Regions from separate parts of the Homo sapiens genome. Here all the other regions are reported to be linked to region 2. Evidence: microRNA targets listed by miRTarBase, many of them from high-throughput screens and not tested one by one. Region 2 holds a microRNA gene; each other region holds the end of a gene's coding sequence. Distances are from middle to middle.

What was found. The annotated mature microRNA hsa-miR-615-3p reads UCCGAGCCUGGGUCUCCCUCUU and lies in region 2 at 4,248-4,269, opposite strand. An mRNA with a match to its seed (bases 2 to 7 or 8) in the 3' UTR can be bound and repressed. Matches are read on the target gene's strand: a 7mer-m8 pairs with bases 2 to 8, a 7mer-A1 pairs with bases 2 to 7 and ends in A, and an 8mer does both.
Region 1: miRTarBase lists SSH1 as a target of hsa-miR-615-3p. The part of its 3' UTR that is shown has no 7-base or 8-base seed match.
Region 3: miRTarBase lists SF3B2 as a target of hsa-miR-615-3p. The part of its 3' UTR that is shown has no 7-base or 8-base seed match.
Region 4: miRTarBase lists ARPC5L as a target of hsa-miR-615-3p. The part of its 3' UTR that is shown has no 7-base or 8-base seed match.

What each region holds. Positions count from the first base shown.
Region 1 is chr12:108,782,137-108,789,251 of GRCh38, reverse strand. It overlaps SSH1 (slingshot protein phosphatase 1), which reads left to right. Exons shown (of 15, transcript NM_018984.4): 15 at 8-7,115. The coding sequence ends at 1,264. Among named protein-coding and RNA genes, the nearest start is that of MIR619, 51 kb to the left of the region's middle.
Region 2 is chr12:54,031,164-54,038,278 of GRCh38, reverse strand. MIR615 (microRNA 615) reads right to left here and starts at 4,329; the gene lies at 4,234-4,329. HOXC5 (homeobox C5) reads right to left here and starts at 5,229. Exons shown (of 2, transcript NM_018953.4): 1 at 4,703-5,229; 2 at 2,918-4,001. The coding sequence starts at 5,156. The coding sequence ends at 3,787. It also overlaps a transcript of HOXC4 not described here. RefSeq lists a silencer at 4,131-4,190 and enhancers at 4,274-5,425, 5,420-5,714.
Region 3 is chr11:66,068,025-66,075,139 of GRCh38, forward strand. SF3B2 (splicing factor 3b subunit 2) reads left to right here. Exons shown (of 22, transcript NM_006842.3): 20 at 1-21; 21 at 124-309; 22 at 650-1,284. The coding sequence ends at 721. PACS1 (phosphofurin acidic cluster sorting protein 1) reads left to right here and starts at 2,248. Exons shown (of 24, transcript NM_018026.4): 1 at 2,248-2,818. The coding sequence starts at 2,463. RefSeq lists an enhancer at 101-260 and silencers at 351-400, 1,808-2,427, 2,438-2,487, 2,638-2,767, 2,778-2,927 and 1 more.
Region 4 is chr9:124,875,859-124,882,973 of GRCh38, reverse strand. It overlaps ARPC5L (actin related protein 2/3 complex subunit 5 like), which reads right to left. Exons shown (of 6, transcript NM_030978.3): 6 at 5,241-6,096. The coding sequence ends at 6,034. It overlaps GOLGA1 (golgin A1), which reads left to right. Exons shown (of 23, transcript NM_002077.4): 20 at 405-464; 21 at 1,020-1,190; 22 at 1,717-1,803; 23 at 2,364-4,699. The coding sequence ends at 2,444. Among named protein-coding and RNA genes, the nearest start is that of ARPC5L, 17 kb to the right of the region's middle. RefSeq lists an enhancer at 1,637-2,190.

The DNA.
Region 1 (7,115 bases), 55 Mb from region 2:
CTTGCAGGATGATGCTATATTTGGGATCCTTAACAAAGTGAAGCCTTCCTATAAATCCTGTGCCGACTGCATGTACCCTACAGCCAGCGGGGCTCCTGAGGCCTCCAGGGAGCGATGTGAGGACCCCAATGCTCCCGCCATCTGCACCCAGCCAGCCTTCCTACCCCACATCACGTCCTCCCCTGTGGCCCACTTGGCCAGCAGGTCCCGTGTTCCGGAGAAGCCAGCCTCTGGCCCAACCGAACCTCCCCCGTTCCTACCACCAGCAGGCTCCAGGAGGGCAGACACCAGTGGCCCTGGGGCTGGAGCTGCCCTAGAGCCACCAGCCAGCCTTTTGGAACCTTCCAGAGAGACCCCAAAAGTCCTGCCAAAGTCCCTCCTTTTGAAGAATTCTCACTGTGATAAGAACCCTCCCAGCACAGAAGTGGTAATAAAGGAAGAATCGTCACCCAAGAAAGATATGAAGCCAGCCAAGGACCTGAGGCTTCTGTTCAGTAATGAATCTGAGAAGCCGACAACCAACAGCTACCTGATGCAGCACCAGGAGTCCATCATTCAGCTGCAGAAGGCAGGCTTGGTCCGCAAGCACACCAAAGAGCTAGAGCGGCTGAAGAGCGTGCCTGCAGACCCAGCACCTCCCTCCAGGGATGGCCCTGCCAGCAGGCTGGAGGCCAGCATCCCCGAGGAGAGCCAGGATCCAGCCGCGCTCCACGAGCTGGGCCCCCTGGTTATGCCCAGCCAGGCCGGGAGTGATGAGAAGTCAGAGGCCGCCCCCGCTTCATTGGAAGGAGGCTCACTGAAGAGCCCCCCTCCTTTCTTCTACCGCCTGGACCACACCAGTAGTTTCTCAAAAGACTTTCTGAAGACCATCTGCTACACCCCCACCTCCTCTTCCATGAGCTCCAACCTGACCCGGAGCTCCAGCAGCGATAGCATCCACAGTGTCCGTGGGAAGCCCGGGCTGGTGAAGCAGCGGACACAGGAGATTGAGACCCGGCTCCGGCTGGCGGGCCTCACCGTCTCTTCCCCACTGAAGCGCTCACACTCTCTTGCCAAGCTGGGGAGTCTCACCTTCTCAACGGAAGACCTGTCCAGTGAGGCTGACCCGTCCACCGTCGCTGACTCCCAGGACACCACTTTGAGTGAATCTTCCTTCTTGCATGAGCCCCAGGGAACCCCGAGGGACCCAGCTGCAACCTCCAAACCATCAGGGAAACCCGCCCCAGAAAACTTAAAGAGCCCTTCGTGGATGAGCAAAAGCTGACCCGCCTTTTGCTGCGTCAGGCTGGGCGGATATTTTCATATGATCCCTCCCTCACTTTCACTGTGGATTTGGATCGACCCCTTACATCTTGATTTCCCTTAAACGAGTGAAGTCATCCTAACTTTTCCCCTACTCTTGCCATAGAGAGGAGGAGAAGAAACTAACCAACATGCAGCACAAGAAGGGGAGCTGTCAGTCGTGTGGCCTGGGAGAACCAGGAGCCGCCGGCCAGGAGACACAAAACTCCGCTCCCACCGTGTCTTCAAGAAGAACCATGTTTTAGGAAGAACGTGCACACATAGGCGCACACATCCAGACTGTTCCCTTCGCATCCTGCAGAAGAGTCCTGGTGGTGGCAGCCTCACCGCGGCACACGTTCTAGCTCATTCTTGGCCTCGCAGAAAACTCTCGGATGGCAACATTAAGTCCTACCTCTGTTCTCGCTGCGCTTTTTATTTTTAAAACACACGAATGACCAAGGCTTGTTCCAGGGAATAATGCTCTGTCTGAAAGCGTTTTTCCAAAAAAAGAATTTTTCGTTTTGTGTTTTGGTTGGGACCCCAGACGTGTCAAGACTTTTAACCCGACAGCCCCAAGCACTGCTGAGTAAAGTCATCAGATGAGTAGTCCCACGCTGTTGTTGAGCTGACTCTGTGCCCGAATGGTGGTGCAGGCGCCCTGTCCTGGTTGTGTTGTTACGTGTTTGACCAGCACAGGGGTCCGGTGGGGAAAATGTATGGGTTGTTCTCAGTTGTTGCTAATGCTGAAGTTTAAATCTCAAGGGGAAGGGCCCACCTGCATTGTTGAGTGTCTGCTGCTGAAACACATGATTGTGTTTAGGTTTGAAATTGCTCAAGTGTCTGGCTCAGGTGGTGGTTCTGAGACACATCGTCCTGCTGAGAGCCCAGATGCTTAGGTCCACTAGGGCCCATCTAGGGAAGGGAAAGGAGATTTCAGCGGCTTCCCCGAAAGGAACGGGACTGTCGGGATGCTTCCCGGATGTCTACAGTTGCCCCTTCCTGCAGTGAGATTACTGCTTCCTGTTTCCCTCCAGCTCTTCCCAGCAGCAGTGAGGGAGTATAAGAGGGATCTGTAGTCGCTGCCTGGCTCTGTGGGCGGCCCCTTTAAGACTCAGGTGAGCTCAGCCAGTCCCGCTGCGCCAGGCTTGAATCAAAGGTGTCAGCAAGCTAGATGTCAAAACATTTCGAGAGAGAGGCAGCTTGCAGAAAAGCAGAAAGGTTGAATTCAGGGGTCAGCAAACTATGGCATGTGGCCCCGTGAGCTAGGAATGGTTTTTCCTCTTTAAGACAGGGCCTGGCTCTGTCACCTAGGCTGGAGTACAGTAGTGCAATCATGACTCACTGCAGCATCAACCTCCCTGGCTCAAGCGATGGCTTTTACCTTTTTAAGGAGTTGTAAAAAAAAGAAATAATATGTGACAGAATTCATGTGGCCCACAAAGCCTGAGGTACTTACTGTCAGGCCCTTTGTAGAAAAAGTTGCTGACCCCTGGTTTGATTTGCCACACAGGGCTGCTCATGGCCCTGTAGGAAGAAACTGGGTAAATGTGAAGCCCTCTGCCTCTCTGACACCTAAGGCCAGACCCTTCCCTCCTCCCGACCACAAGCTTTGCCAGCCCCGCACTAGCCTCACCTGTGCAGGATGGAGTAGGTTGCGTACATGGGGGAAGGCAGGTGAACACAGTTGGCTGAAGCTCTTCCACAATTCCATCTTGCCCTCAGCTGGGTCCGCCAGATTAACTCAGTGAAACCAGAAAGCCTTCAAGGACCAGCTGAATTCTGAAAGTGAGTGAGTGAGCCATCATCTTAACATTGGCCAGAACTGTGTTCCCCAAAGCTATTCTAGAAAGCACCCCAGGAGGGATCTGCAGGAACAAGGCTAGTTCATATTTTACCTAGTGAGCACAGTTTTTGCAAAAATCCTCCCTCCAGGACTTTGTCTCCTTGGAGTGATTTTTAAAAATACATACATTACTTTATAGGGAGCTGTTTTCCCACTAGTGTCAATTAAAATCACCTTAAAAGGTGATTATCCACTTATTCCTAAACCCCTGTGGGTTGTTCCCCCTTTCCCTCAGCCAACAAAAGCATAGCCTCAAAAAATATCAAGTTCGGTATGTTTTGCCAAATCAAATTTCATGTGGTAGATCAATTTTTGTGTCAAAATAATCTTTTAAATTTAGTGATGACAGGCTTTTGTTGGTTTTTTAACCACGTCTATGTATGAGAATGATATATTTTTGAAAACTTTAATTTTGAAAGCCATAATTTTTCTTATCTAAAGAGTTGGGGGGTGGGGTGTGGAATCTGGAGAGTACAAGTTGGTCTTTGGCTTCTGGCAAACTTACCCATTCATTTTTGGAAGCACAGCTAGCATATCAACATCCAGACGAGAGCGCTGGTCCCGTCCACAGAGCAGAGTGAAGCATTCTGGACTTGATGCTTAATAGCCTGGCCTGGAGAAAAGGGTAAGGTTTATTTTTGGAAACCCAGATCAGTTGCATGTAAACAGATGGCACATGGCTATTTAAAATGCTGTATGATGGGGCCGGGCGCGGTGGCTCACGCCTGTAATCCTAGCACTTTGGGAGGCCGAGGCAGGCGGATCATCTGAGGTCAGGAGTTCTAGACCAGCCTGGCCAACATGGTGAAACCCCGTCTCTACTAAAAATACAAAAACTTAGCTGGGTGTGGTAGTGCGTGCCTGTAATCCTAGCTACTTAGGAGGCTGAGGCAGGAGAATCGCTTGAACCTGGGTGGCGGAGGTTGCAATGAGCCGAGATCGCGCCACTGCACTCCAGCCTGGGTGCAATGAAACTGGGAGTGAAACTCCGTCTCAAAAAAATAAAATGCTGTATGAACAAGATGAGCATTCTGTCAGGTGTCGGGACACCTGGGCAAAGACGAATTCATGCTGTCTGTGAAAAGGAAGTTTGCACTGTAACATATGCCATAGCTTGGCCCTTGCTTTGTATGCAACCTTAGCTGATGGGGAAAATTCCAAACATAAGTGGCACAGGAAAGAGGCAGGCAGAGGAGGCAGGGGTCTGTGCTGTGCAAGTCACTGGTTTTTTATGACTATCATTTTCATTGAATGCATTTGTTGAATTGGGACAAAAGGAACATTTTCTAAATCAGCTTGATACTCTTTATAAAAAACAGCTGAATCTTATCTTCTGCCTCACATTAATTCATGTGGCATGCCAAAAGTTAGACTGAACTTTTCTACATCTTCACCTTGCATTGATACAGGAAAGTCTTCTCTTTAAGTCTTGCTAAGTATAAGGGGGATAGTGGTCACGGGAAGAGGAGAACCGGGGCTGCTCTCGGATGGTAATTGACAATGCCGATTTCCATTTCTTTGTCTTACGGCTACTTCCGAGCCTTCTAGCAAGGTCCCTGGTTGCATGTATTTCCTAAGAGCAGAGTTTATTTCTCTTTACATTCCCTGCTTCCTTGCTCTCCATGCAGGGACCCCAGCCAACCTCTGGGCTGTTGAATAGCTCTCTGCTGGGTGGCAAGCCCTTCTCCTTGGCACCCTGTTGCTTAAGCATACAGATTGCTCACCAGGTGCACACAGACAGCTGTACTGTCCAAGCCCATTCTGCTCCACCCTGTCCTCTTCAGCTAAAGAGCATTCCAGTAATCTAAAGCCCTTTTCCCCTGGAGAAGTCCAGAGTTTGCAGCAGTGTGGAGCTGAGCTTGAACAGAACAGACCCTCAGCACGGCCCTGGACTAATGCACTCTTATCTGAGGGCAGTCCATTCTAGAAGGTTGATGAATTTCCCTACCACTCTCCTGGGGACCTTTTCTCTCTAGTGGGAACAAATGCTACATAATTTAGTCAAGATCCTATTAAGTCATCTCACCTGAGGCATCTGGAGAGGGAGTTGCCTTCCATTGGTGGGAAATTGTTGGTGCCAGAATACATTTTGCCCAAAACTCTTCTCATTGGCTGGCCACCTAGCAGGGCTCCTCTAAACACGCAACTCAGCGAGGGGACCCCCTTCACCTCTGGCAAGAGAGCTGGGTAGATCAGAAACTTGGTGACACCTGGCTAGCACAGAGCAGGCTCACTTGTCTTGGTCCCACTACCCAGATTCCTGCAGACATTGCAAACCAAATGAAGGTTGTTGAATGACCCCTGTCCCCAGCCACTTGTTTTGTTATCATCTGCTCTGCAGTGGAATGCCTGTGTGTTTGAGTTCACTCTGCATCTGTATATTTGAGTATAGAAACCGAGTCAAGTGATCATGTGCATCCAGACACACTGTGTCACCTGAGCCACAGAGCAAATCACCTTAACGATCTGGAATGAAACTGTGACCAGTGCCGCCCTGGGTGGTTCTGGAGAGACTGCCGTCTTCTTGTTTGGCCATAGGTGCTGGGGCCCCGGCTTCAGTCACTGTCTCAGACAGGAGTCCCGATAAGCAGATCACCAGTCCTCCACTGTCCTTCCTGTCGGCCTTGCTGCATGAGAAGATAGCTGCTTCCTCCCTCTTTTCCTACACTGTAATTATTGTTTTACAATTGAGTGCCTTAATAATAGTTTACAAATACTATGTATTTATGCAAAACTGTTAAAGTCTCATCTGTTATGATTGGATACTTGGTCTTGTCAGTAGTGGTCAGCATTGGGTTGTGAGCTTGTCCTACTCCATACGTGTTTATCCTGCTATGCAGTTTTACATTGTGTGTTCACATCTATTCCAAGGAGCCTTGCTAGAAACAACACTGGCGGTTCCTGCAGGCCAGGCAGGCATTGGCCCATGCTGTGTCCCATAGGAGCCAATGAAAGAACGTAGCTTGGTCTGCTAGCCAGCCGTGGGGTGGCGCAGGCCAGGCAGCCTCTGCACCAGAGTCCAGCACCTGCCCATTCCCCAGTCACACAATCATACTCTTCTTTCATAGAGATTTTATTACCACCTAGACCACCCTAGTTTTCCTCTCTGTTAGTGTCCTGAGCTCTTTTGCAACAAAATGTAGGTACAGACCAATCCCTGTCCCTTCCCCAATCAGGAGCTCCACACCATGAGTTGTTTGGTTTTCCAGAAGCTGCCAGTGGGTTCCCGTGAATTGCGTTAAGATATCGATGATTTTTTTTATTGTTTTTCTTCTTGTTTTTTTAAATAATATATTTAAAGGCAGTATCTTTTGTACTGTGAATTTGCAGTAGAAGATGCAGAATGCACTTTTTTTTTACTTCTGTTGGTGTGTATTGTATATAGTGTGTGTGCTTCTTGTGATGAAAATAAACTTTTTCTTTATAAATTCCTGATGACTGAGTTTATATAAAAGGAAACTGCTTCCTCAGCCCTTGCCAAAACAGTCTGATACATCGTCATCATCATCGTCATTGACATGGCCAGTCTTTATTGAGCATCTATTACATGCTCAGTTCTTTGCTAGAAAACCTGGACAAGTTACACCAAAGAAAGGACCACAGGAAGAAATGATAGTTCCTCCTGGAACTAGTCTGTTTTCTTTCTAATTTTGTCAGTAAGCAAGAACAGGCCCACCTGTGGGTGGTCCTTTGTGTACCAAAAAAAAAAAGTTACCCACCAGGAAAGGATTTGGACTTTGGGTGGGTTCTCTTCCCGTACAAGTAGGAAATGTAAAGCCAGAGGTGTGCACTAAAGAACATCTAACCTGCTCCCACCAGCCCTGGTGGGAGAGGGAGGACCCTGGAGGCTAAGTACTGCTGGTTTCCAAGGTGCATGCTCATGTCCCAGTCCACTTCACCCCAGGCAGCTTTTGGTGGCTCTTCTCCCTTGGACACTCAGGAGGCAGAGCTGCTTCCATTTTTTTTTTTTTAATTTTTTTTTTTTTTT
Region 2 (7,115 bases):
CAACCAAGGCCTCTCTACCCCAGTTGACTTGCAGTCAGAGAGAATAAGGAGTGGGAAGGGGAGGGCTGCTCAGGGTAGACAAGCTCCCCCATCTTCCTACTTCCCAGCAGCTTTTTCTGCTGCTTCTTCTCTTCTCCCACCCCAGCCTGGGAAGGCCTTTTCCCCCTCCCCCTAATAAGTGGGAGCTGCCTTCTATCAAGTGAGGGGGGTGGTTAGGTAAATGGGAGAAAGGGTCTGAGAGAGAGAAAGAGAGAATTAACTCACAGCGTTCGCCTGGGATTCATTTGCGAAGATGTAACCTCTCTCACCATCGTCCCCAGCGCCGTAATCCCCTCTAACTGCCAGGCCCTCTGTCCTAGCATTAAACCTCACCAGCAGCTGCGTGGCTGGACAGTTAAGATTATATATGATGTAAATATATTGTGGGTTTGTCAGCTCTCCCTACACCATAAAACTTGGTTTAATGATATCACGTGGTCCCCCAAGAGCCACTCACGGGCTTGCCTTCAGGCTATTCACATAAATAACCTCCAAAAGTTTCAAACTCCTAAATTCACATAGAAGCATGCCTATTTCTCTAATGCTCAGTTACACTAAAAAGCCCTGGTGCTGTTCCTTTGCCCCACCCCCACATCCCCCTTGCAGGGTGGAGAGGGGGGAGAGGGTGGATCCTTATTTATTTATTTACTTACTTATTTCCATAAGGACCTGTCGCCTTCGAGGTCGTGTTGATCTTTTTGTCCTCTTATTTTTTCCTCCTCTTTCCTCTAATTGCTCAGAGTGGGCCGTGTCCCCCCTCTTCCCACTCCCCCGGGAAGGTAAGTCATGCTTCTTCCCCTTCTTTCTTGCTGCCAGAGGGGGTGGGTTCCAGGGCAAAGTGGAGAGGCAGGCTCCATAGTCTCTGCTTGCAACCCAGAAGACCCCTCCATAAACTCCCCCAGAGCAATGCCAGACCCTGTTACCTGGAAATATGTTCTAGGAGGCTGGCTGGTGGGGAAACTACCCCAGGCCCCAAAGCAGAAGCCCCTGTTCAGGGAGAAATCAGGGATCTGGGCCTTATGCACCCTCAGCGTAGGGAAGTAGGTACGAGGCCTCTGGCTTGGTTGCCGCCGCTGACTCCCGACGATGCTGCAGAAGCCAAGGCTGGTGCCTGGGCAGACCTGCAGATTGTGACAGGAAGGAGGAGGGCAGGCAGGCACTCTGTGTCTACCCAAGCCAAAATGAGTCAGACCTTCAGCTCCTCCAGGGAAGGAGAGGCCCAAACCCTGCCGGGAGGAGGCAGTCAGTGCACGGTGGGGCTGGTGTGCCCTGCCTGGCAGCTCTAACCAACATTGCCCCTATCTATGACAAAGCCCTTGGTTTTCCCCTGGGGTGGTGCGCCTGTCCCCTGGGGAGGAAGCACAGGGCCTGGGCAGCCTGGGAGGCTGGAACAGGTGGGTGCGGGTGCCACAGCCTCTTTCTTAGTTAACTGTTACCCACCGGAGACGCCAGTGCTTCTCCACGCTTCACTGCTCACTCAATAGTTTTACTCAGCATGGAGAAAAAATTAAAATAACTCCCTGAAGAAAATTACACATTTTATTTCAGAGAGAGAGAGAGAGAGCACTGGTCTGGGTTAACTGCTGTGTGCAAGTTGAGGAGAGACAACAGGCGCCCTAACCTGGCCTGAGTGCAGTGCGAAGGGGAAGGGTGGTAGTTGTGGGCACTGTTCAATAAGCATTTGTTGAGACTGCCTATGTGCCAAGCATGGGGTGAGGAAAGGCTCTTGGGTCTTTTAAAAAATGACTGATGGGTAGCTTAGGCAGTGGGATGCAGCGAAGTTAGTCCTTATAATAAATCCAAGGAGCATCAGCATTAATAATCATAAATATTCCCCTGCCCCTCCCCAGAGCCCCTCTGCTCCCCTTTCTTCTTGGCTGCTGGTGCAATCCCTTAGCCAAGCTCCAGACCCTCACCCCACCAGTGTGGGGGGCCTAGGCTTGGCTCCAGGAAATCACCCTGTTGTGGGAGGTGGGAGAGGAAATGCAGTAAAGTTTTATGGACCCTTCCCACATTTGTTTCTACTGTAAAGTGCTTCCTCCCCCAGCCCATCCCAGGAGCCTGGAGAAGGACCTGATCCTCAGACACTACCTGAATTATCTGCCTCCTCCCACCCCCACTTTTAACCCATCCTCCCCTCCACACAAAATCCCAGAGACTGAGATAAATGATGGCAGACAGACGTGACTCCAGCACTGGTCTATGCAGCTCCTTTCCCAGTTAATTGTCCTGCATAGCCCGAGGCCCTAGAAGGTGGTGGAAACAGTCTGAACATTTCCTGCCAGGCTGATACACACTGCAGATTGTCCTCCCTGCTCCCTCTTCCCCAGTATCTTAGATACTGAGGCACACCTCCTCCAACTCTCCCAACACCCCCTTACCAAGCAATACCACCTCCCTCTAGAGGCCCTTATGAGACCAAATGGGTCCCTAGAGTGAGGGCTCAGCCCTCCCTCTATGTCCAGCAAGGCCTCTCAGGGACCACCTAGGCCCAGGAAAGATCTTCAGAGGCCCAGAAGGTCCTAAGGCTGAGCACGGTGGAGCCACTGGTTCCTGCACCGCAGCTTTGGCACACAGTGGGGGCTGCTGCCAGTCCAGAGGCCTCCTGGAGTGCAGAGGCGTGAAGGCCTTGGACAGCCACAGCATGGGAAAAGCCAGTACTCGAGGCCTAGGTGCCCTTCTCTTCCCCCAGAGGCTCTTGTTGCAGCCAAGGAACAGGAAAGGAGCTCAATTTCACCTCCCTCTACTCACTGCCCCTAGAAGCTAGAAAATTTTTTAAAGGGGTGGCTTAAAGTTTGTGGGTCTCCTTCTACATCTCACAGCCCATTTAGACAATTTTACCCAATACATGCCCCAAACAGACAGGAGCCACTGCATCTTTAGTCCTGTTCTCTCTTTATTTGATATGACAAAATATAGTTTCAGGAAGGACCCAGAGTCAATAAATAGTTGGACAACAGCAATGGGTCAGGAGGGCACAGAAATTCGTGGCAGGGACTATGGGACAGCAAAGGGCCTCTAGGACCACTTGCTGGGGTCCAGTGCCAGGAAACCCCACTAGTTGAGCTAGCTAGCAGGCTGGGGCTGCCGGCCTGAGAGGGCATGCAGCAGGCGCAGGCTGGGGAGGTTCCCGGGTTTTGGGGGGAAGAGGTTGTGGAGATAAGGTTTGGAAAGCATAGAGCAACTGTGGGGGCCCTAGGCCGATGCTCTCCTTTCATATGCAAATCATTCATAAGTGAAAATCTAGTTTAGTCGCTACAAGGAAGCACCCCGAGTCTAGGGCCAGACTCTCGCCAGCCTTTGGCTGTCTAACCCGTCCAGCCGGGAACAAAGGAGAGGGCGAGGTTAGAGGGTCCGGCGAGGGTCCTGTGGCGCGGGCCGGGCCCACCTTAACTCGGGAGGGCCGCGCTGAGGCTGGGAGCCGGAGATACGGCCCAGGCCAAGGTTCGTTCTGCGCCAGCCTGTACGCCGCAGCCCTCCGGGGAAGTCCTGCGGAGCTTGCCCTGGGCCCCGGGTACCGAGCTGAGCCGAGCTGAGGGGAGATGGGGCAGCGCCGACAGCCCCGCGGGAACCCTGGGTCGGTAGGGATGCGGAATGCCAAGGAAAAGCGCTTTTGTCTGTGGGGCCCGGGAGCCCAGTGCTCCAGCACCTGCCCCCGACCCGAAATATAGAGAGGAAAGGCGAAAAGGAAAGGCGCAGGGACAGGAACCGGCTAGGGGCGCGCTCTGCGGGCCTCCCCCGCTGCCTCTAAAGAGCCTCTTTGCTTTTCATTTTGGAATCTTTCTTCCACTTCATCCTGCGGTTCTGGAACCAGATCTTGATCTGTCTCTCATTGAGACACAAGTTGTTGGCGATCTCTATGCGCCTGCGGCGAGTGAGGTAGCGGTTAAAGTGGAATTCTTTCTCGAGTTCCAGAGTCTGGTAGCGCGTGTAACTGGTTCGGGACCGCTTGCCGTCCGTCTCTGGAACATAAACCCCACCCCAAGCCAGGAAGGGGTGAATAGCTTGCAGCGTTCCCCCGTCCCCACCCCAGCCCAGGCCCCCACCCGCGGCCGGAGGGAGAGGAGGCGAGAGCCGCAAGACAGGCCACGCGGGCCGCAGGCGGGCCAGCCCAGCCCAGCCCCGGGAGAGGCGCCTCCGCCCAGGCAGGAAACTTTCCACCGCAGCCTTCACTCTGCAGCCGGAGGGGCTGAGGGGGGGTTGGGGGGAAGAGGGAGACCCAGGCTCGGACCGAACAATAAGCACCCTCGAGATCCGAGCACCGGGGACCCCCCTCCCGCCCCTCCCGAGTCGCTGGAATCCTCCGGAGCCGCAAGCGCCGGCGGAGCCGGCTCCGCAGGGGAGGGAGGGAGGGAGCCGCGGGGGGATCCCCGCTCTGGAGCCCCGCGCTCCTCACCCTTCAGATCCCTCTATTTTTTTAACTCCCTCCCTCTCCCCCAAAAATTGAATATTGCCTTTTATACACGTTTTGTTCCTATGATCCAATTATGTCGTCGTAAATTTGGGCGCACACAGCCTCTAAGCCTTTTAGTGGACAGTTTTACGAGCCATTGATGCCTGGATCGTAAAATTTATGGCCGCAGGTTTTTTTTCTTTATTTGCCCCGCATGGCCTATAAAACCCAGGCGGACCCGAGAGCGCAAAATGAAGTCCTAAAGTTTACCGTGGCTCATGTGCAGTTTGGTCATCCACGGGTAAATCTGTGGCGGGGCCGGTGGCTGGCTCAGTCCGGCGGGCTGCCCTGTCTGCGCCTGCTCCTCTTTGATCTCCCCACTGCTCTTAGCTCGCTCCTCCAGCGCCGGGCGAGCCGCCTTCTGACTGTACATCCCGGGGTTCAGAGGAGCCGCTTCGTCTCTGCCCGGAGCGTGTCCCGGAGCGGCCGCGGCGCTGCAGGCGGGGCGGTCGGGGTGAGCCCGGGGGTTGGCAGCCATGTCTACCCCGTGGAGAGAGTTGGAAGGCGCAGGCGGTGGGAAAGTGATGCTTAAGTCCAATCCGCCGTAGCAGTACCTGGATGCCTGCACCTCTGAGGCCGATCCATAGTTCCCACAAGTTTGCATGTTATAGGCAGGGATATTGGGGCTCTGCTTATAGAATGAATTGGCTACGTAGGAGCTCATGGCGGGGAGGGCCCAAAAAAATTTCTGCACCCTTTTTGATTAAGGGTGATTTGTGACTCTTTGAAGTTGAGGGGTTTTTTGTTCTCCAAAGTGGACAATTTATAGGTGGAGATATCTCTTTCTTTATCCTATGCGCTCTTCCCAAATAAGGGAGCCTTAAATAGAGTCACGTGACTCGAGCGGCCACTCATAAATTTGGCTTGATGACCTCCGGGAGGTTAGTGATGGAAGCCGGCGAAAAGCATCTCGATATGTTGGCAAAGCCCAACCAAGGGGGAGAGGGAGTGAGAGAGAGAAAGAGGGAAGGGGGAGGGAAAAAAAAAAAAAGGTTCTTGGAATTGGGGGTAGCCGGGACAACAAGCCCACAGCGACACCTGGTGCCTATGTGGGGGAATTGCATCCTGGAGCGCCAGCTTGCTTTCCGGTGGCTGGATTTCCTACACTGTGAAGGAGAAGCTGGTTGTTGGGGCAACCCCTGAGCTAGCCTTTTAAATTCTATTTAAAATTGGGAAAAGACGAGGCCCCACTTATAACGCACAGAGTGCTTTTTGTAATGAAAGTCCCGTTCTCCCAACCTCCAGGGTCTTCCAATCTTCAAAAATGGCTGAGGAAAGGGGATTAAGTTAGGTAAGGTGGCCTATGCCCAGGCTGGAGAACCAATGGGGTTTAACTTAGGTTCCCTAAACCAAAGGTAGAAGTCCCTTGCCTCTCAGGCCCTAAGGCTCCACTACTGCTGAAGAGGTGCCTATCAGCAAGAGAAAGTAGAATTAGCTTCTGAAGAGGTAGACAGGACGCCCAGGAGGAGGGATCCTGAGTGGTCAGAACAAGATAGGGGGGTCATGAAGCTGAGGGTGTTGCAGGCTGTTTGGGATGGATCTGGAGGTGAGGAGCCAGGTGGAGTTGGCTAGACCTCACCATGCTAGGGTCCCCAGAGTGGCAACAAGGCAATTTTCAAGTGTGTGTGTGGACACGGACAGAGCCAGACAATGGTCTAGAGGACTGCTCTGTTTCCCTGTGTGCGATCCTTATGTGGTACCTATGCCAGAGGTTTTAGACAGAAAATAGATGTTAATTGAGGACATGGAGAAGCAAGATTGAAGCCTCCACAAATATTACGTGAGCATGGCAGAGGAAAAGGCCCGTTATGTGCCCTTTGGGGAAAAGGTCTCTGGGCTAGGCTTTCCAGGGACCTGAATCCATAAGGTTCACAAGAGAGCAATTTCTGAGCTACCAAGAGGAATGGGGCGGACCTGGGGGGTGGGCAGGGCAGGCGCCTGGGTAGCCTTCGCAGGGTATCTGCAGCCATTCGGCCCCATCCTCTTCCCCCGTAGCCCCAAGTCTCATACTTCCCTGCCTGCTTCTTCCCAGGAAATCTCCGCCCCGCCAGGAGAAGGCCCCCTCCTCACTGGTGGAGGCACTGGAGGCGAGGGTGGGGGCGCTGGAGGGAATCTGAAGGGCCCGGAAAACTCTGGCGGATTTTTTCCCTCCGGAGACCCTCCTCAACACCTCTCCCTGTAGGCCCACTCAGGTTTCTCTGGCCAGGCTTGGAGAGAGAAGGCCAGGGTTGATAAATGGTTAGGGTCCGGCTGCGCTCCTCACCCGCCTCTTCACCCGTTTGAGGAGAGAAAAGTAAGGAACCAGCCCGGCTGGAGCTGTAATGAAGAAGGAATTTTGTCCCGGCCACGTCAGGAGTACCAGAGCAGGCGAGAGCTCAGTTTCCAGGCTTTCTCTCTCGAGATGTCCTTGAATCGCTCAATCCCTGCCGACAGGGCTCCAGTCCCGCGGTCTTCTCTTTCCCTCCGCTCTCCGCCTCCGCTACGTTTCGCAACAGCCAGCTTGGCGCGGGCCTGGGGCTTGCTCTCACGGCGCCCCCCGCCTCCAACTCCCGGGAGTGGGTGGAGGAGACCCTGGTGCCTGGATAGTGCTTCTTTACTGGTCTTTCGGGGCGCCTCAGGGTTC
Region 3 (7,115 bases), not on the chromosome of region 2:
CACATTTATGACATGTCCACGGTGAGTACTTGGAGGATACTGCTTTTGGAGGCTGAGAAAGGCAGCAGAAGCTAGGGCTTCTCTGACTCTTTGGAGATGACCAGGCCCTGATCTCCTTTCCAGGTTATGAGCCGGAAGGGCCCGGCTCCTGAGCTGCAAGGTGTGGAAGTGGCGCTGGCGCCTGAAGAGTTGGAGCTGGATCCTATGGCCATGACCCAGAAGTATGAGGAGCATGTGCGGGAGCAGCAGGCTCAAGTAGAGAAGGAGGACTTCAGTGACATGGTGGCTGAGCACGCTGCCAAACAGAAGGTAGGCGCTTCCAGGGGCGCTGGGCTGGGTGAGAGCCAGGGACCCTGGCCTGCCGTTTTCAGTGGCATGGTGCCCTCTAGTGGTGAGAGTGAGGGTGGCCTCTGCTTGCTGCTCTGTGCTTCCTTAGATTTGGAAGTCTTAGAAATCCTCCAGTGGGCTGCCCTCTTTAAGGACGATGAGGGGGAGGAACTCAGCCAAGTCTGAGAGGGAGCTCGAAGAGAATTCAGATTCAGCGCCTTTCCCACAGACTTCTATGTCTATGTCAGGCTGCCCACCCTTGTTTTGGGGGTCCGGGGGTGGTTCAACCTGTCTTAACCTGTGTCTCTTTCTCCCTATACAGCAAAAAAAACGGAAAGCTCAGCCCCAGGACAGCCGTGGGGGCAGCAAGAAATATAAGGAGTTCAAGTTTTAGGTCCCCTCACACTAGCCCTTTTTTTGGCCCTACGTCTGGATGCCTGGGCTTCACACAAGAACCACCTCTCCCGCAGTTCCCAAGGACTTGTCATTTCATGTTCTTATTTTAGACCTGTTTTGTAAATAAAGCTGTTTCCCAAGGAAAGAGATGAATATTTAACACTCCTGAGCCTCCCTCATCTCCTTTTAGCCCCTTCTTGCAAAAGGACTAAAATAGTCTCTTTCTACAATCACTGGGCTGCCCCAGTAACCACGAACATAAACTGGGATTAGACGGCGCATTTGACTGGTGGTGACGCCAACCCCAGGCTGAAATCTGTGTTTCACCACTGCCCTGCTTTGTAGGAAGGCTTGGGGGAAGTACCTCTAGGTCTGGTTTGACCTTACTACTTTGTCCTTGGGGAGTAAAAATAGCCAGATTAGCGCCCTAGCGCGGCAGAGGAAGTAACAGTGGGCTTGGGAAGTAGGCCAGGGCAGGCCTTCCCAACTGACCTTGTGACCAGAAGTTCAAGTCCTTACCTGTGCGACAACATAGCTCAAAAGCTAAATTGTCTTGAGTCCATATGAACCCTTGGGTTCAAGCAACACTAGTCGCTGGGGTTTGGGATTTGTATGTGGGATGGGGGGACTTACTTTCTCCAGGTTGTAATCTGGTCCTGAGCAGCCTTTCTGACAGACTAGAGCAGGCTGGATCACTGGCTCCCATGGGCATTTGCCAGCCTGTGGGGAGGGTAGTCATGCGCTGCTGTTGTACTACTGTTGGTGTTTAAGTGCACCAGTGGAGGCGCTCACTTGCCGGAGGGTTCAAGATGGTCTCGGGGTTGTGGGGGGCATGATCCAGATAGGACGTGGCAGCTGAGCTAGGCCTTAGGAGGAATGGAATTTTAGAAATTTGGTAAGCAACAAAGCACTGGCACTCTAAAGAGGCATTTGGGGGGTAGGGAAAGAAGAGGAAGGTTGGCTCCAGATGGGCCCCGGGGTAGCTTGAGAATTCACTTATGCGAAGAACCTTCTGGACTCCAGGTCCCTGAGCCCCCGCTTGCCCTCGGGGCGGGAACTTCCCGGATCACAGGCACCCGCGGTGGCAGCGGGCCCCGGGTCTCCGCCGACCTCTCTGTTTGCCGGGGCCGCAGGGCAGGGCTAGGTCGGCAGGCGGAGAGCCGGCTTCCCCGGGCAGACCCCCACCGCTGGGGGCGGGTTCCGCATTGGCTCCGAAGACCCGAGGGGCCGAGGCGCGCTCCCGCGGCGGCCCCCTCCCTGCAGGGACCGAATCCCGGAAAAGCCGGGTTTCCGCTGGCGGGGCCGCGGCCGGCCGTGGGCGGGGAGGGGAGGAGCGGGGGCAGACTGGCAGCGGATTTGAGGGCAGGACCCGTGGGCGCGCGCTGGCCACAGACCACCCCTTCTACTCCGCGGGAGCGAGGGGCGCGCGTGGCTGCACGCAGGGCGCGAGCGCGCCCGGCCCGGCCCCTCCGCGCTGGGTGGGGCCGCGCGGGCCGGGCTCCCCGCCCCCTCCCGGACACGCCCACCCGTGTCGGCCTCGCGAGCCGCAACAGGCAGCGGCGGTCGAGCGCGAGGCCCGCGCGCCCAGAGGCCCCGCGCGTGCGTGCAGCTCGCTGGCTGCTCGCGCTCGGGCAGGCGGGCTGAGGAGGCTGCCGCGCCCCCGCCGCCGCCGCCGCGGGGGAAGCCTGGGAGCCAGATCGGCGTCGCCTCGGCCTCCGTAACCCCCGCCTAGCCGGGCCATGGCGGAACGCGGAGGGGCGGGCGGTGGTCCCGGAGGCGCCGGGGGCGGCAGCGGCCAGCGGGGATCCGGGGTCGCCCAGTCCCCTCAGCAGCCGCCGCCGCAGCAGCAGCAGCAGCAGCCGCCGCAGCAGCCGACGCCCCCCAAGCTGGCCCAGGCCACCTCGTCGTCCTCGTCCACCTCGGCGGCGGCTGCCTCCTCCTCGTCCTCGTCTACCTCCACCTCCATGGCCGTGGCGGTGGCCTCGGGCTCCGCGCCTCCCGGTGGCCCGGGGCCAGGCCGCACCCCCGCCCCGGTGCAGATGAACCTGTACGCCACCTGGGAGGTGGACCGGAGCTCGTCCAGCTGCGTGCCTAGGTGAGCGCGGGAGGGTGCGGCGGGGCGCCGGGGGAGCGGGGTGGCCGCCGGGGCCCAGCCCTCCCCGCCCCAGCGCCCATGGGGTCCCCGCCCTCCATCTCCCCGACTGTCCCGCGGCCCGGCCTGGCTCCAGCCAGGCCTCCCGGGACTCCTGCCACGGGGACCCGCCCTCTCCTGGCAGCCCCACCTTCTGCCTGGGGCCGGGACCACCCTTCTGTCCTCCCCGAGGGACCTTCTGGCCTCGGCCCCGGGCTTTCTCCGATTGGGCTGACCGAATCCGGCCTTCCTGGCAGTCAGTTTCCCTGAGTAAGTCACTCTCCTGCCTCGCCGGCGCCGGGAGCTGTACATACATGGATGTGGTATAGATCTCTTGATATTATTATTTCCCAATAGACTCAGCATGTGCCAAACTCGATTGTCACCTCTTGCAGGTAAAGCTCATATAATCACCCTAGGGGCTTCTCATTAGCCTTCGGCACACATGTTCATTTGAACTTCATATTACACACGTTCTGTCCCAAGCGCTAGGCTCTTAGTTTTGGGGCCCTATTTAATGTGTCCTCAAGTGTATTTTTACCTCCCCTCCCCCACTAAAACTGGTCCCAGAATCTCCCAGCTCTGCAGGGCTGTATGAAATTACTGCCTTGTTCCTAAATTCAATCCATTGCTCTCTGTCTGTTGGAACCATCTGGGGACTTTCCTTCCATTGGCAAAATAGGCCTGAGTTTGGGAATATTTTCTGTTTTTGTATTGGCAAGGCAGTCTGTCTCCAACTCTGGGGACAGGGTGCTGTGTCTTACAGTTTGCCACTTGAATAAGACGGTGTGTGGAGCTGGTTTCACCCAGAAAGCCCAGAGAAGTGCCTGGAGGTGTTCTTTTTTGTCACCTTGTAGCTGAGTTGATTCTGTTGCCTTGAAGTCTTGGGCTGTCTCCTCACTGTTGGTTAGGCAGACGGATGTGTAAGTCAGAGTTAGAGAGGATTGCTGGGCTCCCCCCTCGACTGTCTTCCTTTCCCCACCTTTATTCTGGATAATATTGTTTTATATATATATCCCAGATAGGAATGATGAGAGTACATCTTTCTGTTTCGCTCAGCTTAAGGAACAGAGCATTATCGCTTCTGTTGAAGCTCTCAGGGTGCCCCTTCCTGACTGTCTCCCCTCTTCCTTCTACAAAGGTAAACACTATTTTGAATTGTGTTTATCATTTCCCTTGTTAGAAAAAAATTAGTTTTACTACATAATGCATCTCTATATATTTTATAGTTCTGAATGTTCTTGAAGTTTGTGTACATGGTGTCATCCTGTATGTGTTCTGTGACTTGATTGGTTTTTTTATTTTTTTTTAAATCAGCATTAGGTTTGTGAGAATCATCCATGTGGTATGGTAGCCATAGTTTAAATATTTTCATGATGGGTAGTATTCTGTTGTGTGAATGAATATACCGTAATTCTCTTGAATATGTAGGTTGTTTCCTGTTTAACACCCACAGTAATGCACACATTTCCCCCCAGGACTCCTAGTGCTCTTGTGCAGAAGTTTCTTTAGGTTGTATTCATATGGAGGGGTGGGATTGCCGCTCGCAGGGTATAGATCTGGGACTTCACTAGGCAAAAGTAGATTGTTTCCACAGGCTGCTTCCACTCTGTGTTTCCACATCACTTAACAGATTTACACATTGTTTTTTTTTTCTCTGTCCTTTCTCTAGGGAAATCAGGAGCCACATTAATTTAGTTTGCTGTGGCCAGATCCATAGCACAACACCAAGCTCAAGCGAGAGTTGAGTATGTGATGGTGTTCCTCTCTTGATCCTAAGCAGGCCTCTCTCTTTCTATACAGGCCCATCTATCGCTGAAGTATCCTAACCCACCTCTTTCACACATAGAAACACTGTGTTCCTTCCTACGTGGGTCCAGTCTTTCCCATTTCTCCTTCACTTTCATGCCTGTGTTTGGTGACGTTTGGGCAGCTGCCTTCTCCATCTCGTTAGGTTGAAAAGGCGCGAGCCTACTGGCAAGGAGCTGCAGCAGAGGGGCGTGAATGAAATCATTGACTGCTGTTGATGTTTGGTCTGCCCCTAGGTCTTTTGGTCACTGCAAAGTCCACGTAATAAATTATTAGCCTAAGAAACAGCCAGGCATCCTGATCAAATGTATAATTATTATGCTAACTTGCTGTGAGAGGCTTAGGCGGACTTATTTTTACATTCCGGGAGTGTGCAGTTACGTCACGTTTACTGACCAGTCCTTGAGCTTGTCCACTGTCCTGCTCCGACATTGTTTTTCATCCATCACCCTTGTACCTCCTCACTCCTTGTGGAACACATGTGCTCTTTGAGCATTTTGCAGGCCAGAATAACACTCTGTGGGGAGAAAATGGCCTGCCATTGGTCTTTCCAATTATTAGAGTCATCTGGTTAATTTGAGGTCTCCTGGGTGTCCTTGTTCATGTTGTTTAGAATATATAGGCAACATGCAGCACTCTGTGGAGGGATTAACATTCTTGTCTCATGTAACTCAAACGGGACACAAATATATGAGATACATGCCCCTTAGAAATGTAAACATGATTGTGGATCTAAGGTTAGGTGTGCATAAGAATGTCATGGGATTTGGTCTCTTAGGGCAGAGAAGAGGGGCTCGAACAGTACAGTGTTAGGAAGGTCCTGCTGCTTTTCTTGATGCCTGTCAAAATATAATTTTCTTTTGAAAAAAATACCGTTTCCTGTATTAGATATTTAAATAAAGAGCAGTGTAGTTGTTCTTCAGGTAGGTGTCTGCTCTTATTTAACATCTGTTAAATTCCCCCAGAATACATAGTACTTTTGAAAAACTTTATATAGGTGAATAGCTTACTCACAGCTGGTTTTAAAAGAATGAAATTGTTCTGTTGATCACATTTTTCACCAGCATTTTTTGTTTTTTTTCTTTAGATGGAGTCTTGCTCTGTCATCCAGGCTACAGTGTAGTGGCACAGTCATAGCTCACTGCAGCCTCCAACTCCTGGGCTCAGCAATCCTCCAGCCTCAGCCTCCCAAGTAGCTGGGACTATAGGCATGTGACATCACACCTGGCTTTTTTTTTTTTTTTTTTTTTTTTTTTAAAAACAGGGTCTCACTATGTTGCCCAGGCTGGTCTTGAACTCCTTGCTTCAAACTGTCCTCCTACCTCGGACTCCCAAAGTGCTGAGATTACAGGTGTGAGCCACTGTGCCCAGCCTTTTACCAGCATTTTTTTTAAAGACAAAATGATTAATATATGTCCATGATTAGAAATTTGAGCAGTATGGAAAGATGGAAAGCACAAAGGAAAAAGCCCCCAGTCCATCCCTCTTCTCACTTCCCAGAGGTAATCACTGTGAAATACAGTTGGCTTTTAAGATTCTGTTACAAAAAGGTAGTTTTGCTATAGTTCCTTTATCTTTTATGAAATTCAAGCTTTAGAAGTTAGCATTGTTTTCCCTTCATGCTAAGTAGTACTTCCTCTACTATGGTCCAGTATGGCATGGACCGTGGTGCAGGGTTATGGGGACCAGGTGGCATGCTGCTTGATGTTAAAGGAAGGGTGTTAGAGCCTCATTGTTGATCCCTTCCCTTCTGCCTTTGTATGGTGAGGTTTCCCTGATGTTCTTTTCTTTTTGTGTTGCTGTAAGTAGGAGAGGCAGAAAAATTACTAAATTTTACAAGCATTCAAAATTTCCTCAGTGGCATAAAAGTGATTATTAAGAGATGAAATGTGCTCTGCTGTATCATTCGCAAACCATATCCAAAGCCCATTTGCATACCCTTATGTGTATGTGAACTTAGGGTAGGAGTTGGCAGTTATCAGTCACTTTTCTCCTTAGGTCACATTTTTTTTAAGTGGGTGCTGAGGTCAAGCCTTAATGGACAAAAGCGTTGGAATCACAGAAGGTGGCCATAGCTGAGTTGGCATGACTGGTCTGCAGCAGAAGTGTTACTTTCATGAAAACGCTTGGGGGCATTTGCCCCTTTAACCACAGAAGCACTATACGAGCCAAGATATACTACTCTATCTTCTTACTATATACTAGGACAAACTCTTCCATGCATTAGTTTAATTTTATTAATTTTTTTTTGGTGTTTTTTTTTTTTTTTTTTTGAGATGGAGTCTCGCTCTGTCGCCCAGGCTGGAGTGCAGTGGTGCAATCTCGGCTCACTGCAAGCTCCGCCTCCCAGGTTCGCTCCATTCTCCTGCCTCAGCCTCCCGAGTAGCTGGGACTACAGGCGCCTGCCACCACACCTGGCTAATTTTTTGTATTTTTTTGTACAGATGGCGTT
Region 4 (7,115 bases), not on the chromosome of region 2:
CGTAAGTCCTCGCCTAAGTATCCTACTTGGGGATCACAGCATAAAAATTGAATTTTGAGGGCAAAATCTATGGTCCAGAGCCTTTTCCAGCTGGGCTGTGTGTGGTGGACCAAGCCCCCGGGAAGGGATAGGCAGCGCTGGGGCACTCATGTCAACACAGAGGGACTGTGGCCCCTGTGGGACGTGGAGACTCAAGCGTGTGAAAGCAGTGGCCCAAGAGGGATGACAGCCCAACAGTCGTAGGCACAAGCATGCGACAGCTGAGCACCAGCCTCTCAGGATGACTTCTCAGGGCAGAGGCTCCTCACAGGTGTACAGGGGATCCCGTGGGATCTTCGGGTCTGTTTCCTTTGGTGAAACATGCATCTAACGATTGGCTTTCTGTGGGGTGGGGCTTGTCGCAGACCATAAAGCAGATGCAGCAGCGGATGCTGGAGCTCCGGAAGACTCTGCAGAAGGAGCTGGTGAGTACTCGCATGGGAGCTGGCCCCACTTCCCAGCACTCCCCCTGCTGCCTGTGCCCGGTCCTCCTGAGGTCCCTCGCCGCCTGACTATGCTCCCTCCACCCCCTAATTAATTGCAAGGGATCGCTGGGCAATCCAACGTTAGCTGGTGGGACAGCCTGCCAGCCTGCATGCACCTCTGAAGCAGCTCCGTGGCTACAGCCCTGTTCCTGCCTTCTCTGAGCCTGCATCCTCATCTGGAAGTGGGGTTGCCTGCCACGCCAGCGCAGTGATGCTCTAACAGTGTGTGTGTGTGGCAGAGTGCTTGGCCTGATGCGGGATGCGAGCAGCTTCAGGCCCCAGGGACATGTGTTCTTGCCATGGAAAACGGAATGTCTGAATTTACCCAAACGATGTCACTCCCTCCTCAAGCCTACCTGGAGGTGCTTCCTTCCCAGGTGGGGCCCTTTTTGCCCTACGATAGTGATCATAGTTTGGACCAGGTGAACCTCCCGTGTGATTTTTTCCACCTGTCTCAGAGGGTTCGGTGTAGCATCTTTCCCACTGGTTTTTCAGAAAATCAGACCCGATAATGAGCTCTTCGAAGTCCGGGAGAAACCTGGACCTGAGATGGCAAACATGGCGCCTTCCGTCACGAATAACACTGACCTGACAGATGCCCGCGAGATCAACTTTGAGTACCTTAAACATGTGGTTTTAAAATTCATGTCTTGTCGCGAATCCGAGGTAAAGGGCTTTTGAGGTGTCTTTTGGGTATTGAGGCCCCGCCCTACAGTCTGTCCTGCAGGGACCCCTGCCCAGCCCCTTTCTCTCTTTTCCTCGTACATCCTGGTTTGACGCCCTTGTGGTCACCCAGTCATTTCTCCTGCTGGCGTTGGCCTGCGGAGTGAGCGGCTGGCGGGAGAGGCCGTGCAGGAACTGGCTCCTGGTGGGAGACATAGGCTCCACTTCTAAATCCTGGCCTGGGTGCTGAGGCCAGAGGCCGGAAGCCGGGAACGGAATCCACCCATCGCTCCTGGGTCCTGCCAAAGGGTAGGGTAGCTGCTGGGGCAGTTCCCTTAAGCCTGCCAGGCCCCCGAGGATGCAGGGGAAGAAAGAACCTATCATTGCTGCCAAACTTCAGAGTGCCAGAGCGTCACCCACCACCTGGTCCTGCTAACCAAAGCAAGCAGGAAATGCCACGTAGCTCCCCCGACCCCACCCCGCCTCACCTTCACCAAGGCCTATGGCAGCAAAACTTACTGTGTTTCAGGCTTTTCATCTTATAAAAGCTGTGTCAGTGTTGCTGAACTTTTCCCAAGAGGAGGAGAACATGCTCAAGGAAACTCTGGAATATAAGGTAGGGTTCTCTGGTCTACTGTTCCAGCTTCCAAGATACGTTGTCAGTTATCCCAGCAGTAGCAGTGTAAGACCCCTTAGACCCACACCCGAGTGTAGGCACCAGCACAGCTGCATGATCAGCTTGGCTGCTTTTGGATGAACTTGATCCAAGCACTTTTTAGCGATGACATCCTTTGTGCCCAAATGTCTGTGCTGTACTTGACCAACAGGCCACGTATTTTTCAAAGCATTTTCATTGATAGCGCTTTATCGAGAGCCCCAGGTCTGGCTCGGCACTCAAATTCCAAAAGCGTCTGCATAAATGCTCTAATAGGAAAAAATACCTGCAGTTCCACTACCTTGTTCCTGTCAACTCAGTGTTTTTCTCTCATTTCCCTCCTGTACTGAGCACGGGCCTGCAGACTGGTTACTGGCACCATCTTCTTGCTCTGCTCAGAGCCAGAGGCAGGATGTGTGGGGGGCAGGAGTGACAGGCTCACGGGAGGGGAGGGGCGGTTCAGTTTCCCTGGCACCAAGTCCTGATTTGCATCTCAGAAGCCTTTTCTGTTTCAAATGCAGATGTCATGGTTTGGGTCCAAACCAGCTCCCAAGGGCAGCATCCGGCCGTCTATCTCAAACCCTCGGATACCATGGTCCTAGAGGGGACTACCCAAGGATGGAGCTCCGTGGGTTGACACTTTTTCTGTGAAAAGAACACTGACACACCAGTCTGGGTGGGTTTTTAATCACTGTAACTGCAGTATTTTGTACAAGTGTCTAAACATTGTTTACAAGACTAAGGCCCACTTCCCTGCAGGCTGACCTGAACCTCAGGGGGTAGCTGATCCTGTCATTCTGGTCACCAAACAGGAGGGTCCTGGCACTACCCAGATTTCCACAGTGCTGCTAATATCCCAGCTCCAGCCAGCACCCCATCTGCACCTGAATCCTCTAACTTCACGGTAGCACTTACAGCTGAAGCCATCAGCATCTGGCAGGCACACCTGAGTCACCATGTAGCGCTGCTACTGGAGGTAGAGACGGCCCTTTGAGATGGTGCCCAGCAGGCCAAACCCACCTGCCTCTGCCAGGAACAGCCAACTCCATGGGAACTCTATGGGAGTGGCTTTTAAAAATTCAGATGAGTTAGAAGCTTTTTATCCCTTCCTCTCAAGAAAATATTCTTTCACCCTGTCTCTCAAACCACCTAGAACTTTAGAGGATCCATCTTTAAGGGTCGGTGTGGATGAATGAGAAAATGCACCTTTCTGACAGTATCTCCACTTTACTTAAGAAAACTAGCAAATATATGAAAAGACCCTTAGTACCAAATACACTCAATTGCCTTTTTAATGAATGTACTTGTCTTGGATAGGTTGCTGGTAAACCATTTTAAACTATTTTTTATAGCTGAAGTTCTTCACTACTATAAACATGTCTTCTGTACTATAAAATCCATTTAACTGGTGTTCTTAAAATCAGAGCGTCCAGAGGAAATTCTTCCTAAAACTAGGATTCCTGTTCCTTTGTCTTCTCACTCGCACTCTGGCACTGCTCCCTCTGAAGTGCAGTGGGATCTCGTGTGCTTTGTCTTGATTCTGTGCTGCGCTGCCGCTGGGCGATGCAGACCACCTGTCTTCTACTGAAGGACAGTCCGCTGTCTCCAGTGGGGGCAGCAGCTGTCCCCCAGCCTCGATGGAGACACTGGGGCAGTCTGCCTTGTCTGTGGAGCTGCTCTCTCTCCCTCATCCCACCCCAAATACTTAAAATGACACTACACCCAGACGGCGCCCAGCTGGCTGCAGCACTTGTAGCATGCACATGACTCTGGTAGTAACCAACAAAAACTTGTTTTATGGATTCCTCGTTTACTGAGGAAAGGGAACATGCTGGTTCTGGAAAAGCCACAATATTGAATCTAAAAGGAAACCGTTTATTGTTTGATGAAAGTTTCACTGGTTAAATAAAAAACTAAATTAATAACTGGAGCCTCTAAATTTATTATCCATTATCCAGTGATGGAAAGTTGTATTTCTCAATCATGCTTAGGGCCAAAATAGGTATATAAAATGTGTCACAGAAAAACACGCATTTGCAACGTTAACCTAACGAAATTTCCATGAAGAACCAAGTCAGGGCAGCATCTCCTTAGTCCCAGCTCAGGCTCTCTGCCTTCCAGAGGCCGCTTCTCCAGTGACTAACCTCCTCCTCTGGCTCCTCCTTGCAGACAGTTATCCCTTGTTTAGAACACGAATTTCCATTTACCTGGTGGGAACACGAAACAGGAGTCTCTTCTGTTCTGCAAGTTTGATGGGTAAGAGGTAGCCTTTTTTCAAAGTAGGATTTCCTTTTTCAACTGTTCCAGGAAAGAATCTCTAAGACTGGGTAGCTCACAGCCAGCCAAAGGCAGCTACATTTCCACAGAAGCCCATCCGCTGCCTCCGTGGCTTCTCCAGCCATTGAACTGGTCCCACACGCACCCCAGGCCCCACTCCTCGGCAGTTTCAGGTGTAGCTGTGGGGCCCGTTCCTAGGTCTGTACTCACTTTAGGGAGGCTTCACTGACTAGGCTTTCCTCCTGCATGTTGAATTTCCTTCAGCTTTAAGAGGAAGAGTGGAATAAATATTCTAAGTGATTTAATGCACTTTGACTTGTATAAAACTTTCTGTGTTAGCGACGGTATCTATAGCCCTTTATACGAGCGATGGATCTTGAGCTCTCCTTCCATGTTGTAAATAGGGATTGTATTCTTGAAAACTGCTGTAGCAAATTCATCTGTGGTGCAATACACTTTTTGATTAAAGCTCTTCAATCCAGATGCAACTACAATGGATTTTACTAGTTTGGTGTGTCAGTATTTCTTTGACTCATTAAATCTGGTATTTTGTGTCTCATATTTAACACTCCAAGGCCAACCTCAAGGGCTAGAGAATGTTTGTCTTTCTTTCAGAAAGAACCTTCCCAGACTGGATTTGGGTGAATAAATATACGTAATTTAATGAAGCCAACAGCCCCATTCTACCCCCCCCAAGAATTGCAGTGGTTCTGAAGAGGGACTGAGGAGGGGAGAGCTGTGGAGGGGAGGACTGTGTCACTTTGGTCAAAGTCTGTATCCAAAGGCTGTATGACCCAGAGGAGCTTCTGGAGTGTGAATGGGGCCCTAACCTTTAACAGAATGCAAGCTGCAGTCACATGTGCTGAAAAGGAAAGAAAAGCATTTTTGCCCTTCAGAGAAGCTCTGTTATTGGTTATGGGGAACCAAATTATACCATCTATTTGCTGATTGATTGCTCCCCATTTCTGACGTTTAGTTCTTTAAAGAAAGCTTGTCCATGCAGCAGTGATTCTGCAGCACAGCCAACCCAGCATCAGGAGACGTGACCAGGCACATCTGAGGCCCCACCCTCAAAAGATTCCAAGTGCAATCCCACAAACTGAAGACTTTTAAAGCCTAGATCAATTATTAAATGTTTGGCACTTTATTAAATTAATTAAATAAGCTCCAAAATTAATTACATACAAATCAAAGGAATAAGAAACAATAAATAGTTTATTCAGCAAACACCTCTCTGCAGCAGCCGGCAGCTCTGAGGCCGAGGCTGGCGTCCTGTGGCAGAGGGCCTGTGGATTGCCATGCTCGCTCCCAGGGGTGGCTCAACAGGGACACAGGTCTACTCCTTCCACATCGGGTTTCCGGAACAACAACTGAACTCTCATTCATTACCATCCCATTCATTACCATTTTTTTTTACATACACGAAACACACCGCAATGTATAGACTAATAAGCCAAGAGCTTTATTGATGCAGCAGGCACTTTACAATGAGCCCAAGAGTGTCCACCTTCTCTGGGAAGACAGGATGTCTGTACAAACTCTTGGGTTTTTTTCCACTTCAAAAACACAAGCTCTCCCGTTTACCACAGCCCTTGGATCTGCACCTGCCCAAACCATCCCTCCCCCAGTGCACACAGGTGCATCTGACCAACACCAGCCGCCACGCTGGTAGACCGTCAAAATGTCAGTTCTGCAGTACTCGGAGACAAAGGCATAGACTATCAGATCCTAAACAGGATTTAGGAAACAGACGATTTTCCCCTCCACCTTGAAAATAAAATACATTTCAGCAGATACATGTCCTGAAATAGTTTACTTGGGAGTTCCTAGGAAGATGGTCCATTGTCAATCCCTTCTTCACCAGCCTGGGCATCCAGAATTCTTCTCAAGGTAACATGAGTCTTTTTATTTTTTTTAAACAGTCTTTCTTGCTGTAAGAACTCTTATAATGGAGCCTAGTCCTCCTACTGCTAAGGCCTGTGGGGGCAGGAAAAGAAAACGTGTCAGATGAGACCTGGCTGGCCAAGGGGAGCCTGGCTTGCCAGAGACAGGGGGGACATTCCCTGACCTAGATCCCGTCACAGATCCTCGAAAGAGGATTCCTGAGATAGAGCACATTCTAGGGAAGGAGCCCTGTCCTGGAGCCGTGGGGTCCCGAGAGCTGTTGGCTCTTGGGCAGAACTGGCTTGAGAACACTGTCACCAGCACACAAAGCAGAGCCCTCGAGCTTCCCTTTTGAGATGGGGTCTCACTCTGTTGCCCAGATCACAGCTCACTGCACAGCCTTGATGTCCTGGGTTGAAGCCATCCTCCTGAGTAGCTGGGACCACAGGTGTGCACCACCAGGCCCGGCTAATTTATTTTTTTTGAGACGGAGTTTCGCTCTTGTCACCCAGGCTGGAGTGCAATGGCACGATCTCGGCTCACTGCAACCCTGCCTCCCCAGTTCAAGCGCTTCTCCTGCCTCAGCCTCCCGAGCAGCTGGGATTACAGGCGCCCGCCACCACCCCCGGCTAATTTTTGTATTTTTAGTAGAGACGGGGTTTCACCATGTTGCCCAGGCTGGTCTTGAGCTCCTGACCTCAGGTCATCCGCCTGCCTCCGTCTCCCAAAATGCTGGGATTACAGGCGTGAGCCCACCGCACCCAGCCTAGTTTATTTTTTTGTAGAGATGGGTTCTCACTACATTGCCTGGGCTGTTCTTGAACTCCTGGGCTCCAGCAATCCTCCTGCCTCAGCCTCCCAAAGTGCTGAGTTTACAGATGCACACAAGCCCACTGACTGCCGCCCGCTGAGGTGACTGGCAGGCACCAAGCTGCCTTAAAGGGACGAGAGGTCCTGGCCTCCCCATCATACAGAGGACTTGTTTACTTCCTTGAGCCCAGGAGAGGGGAGGCCAAGGAGGTGCAGCACACCCGCCAGCAGACCTAAGGCCACAACCACAGCCCAGCACCCACACCACCTTAAGGACTGGCCCACTGTAAAACCCCTCTCTT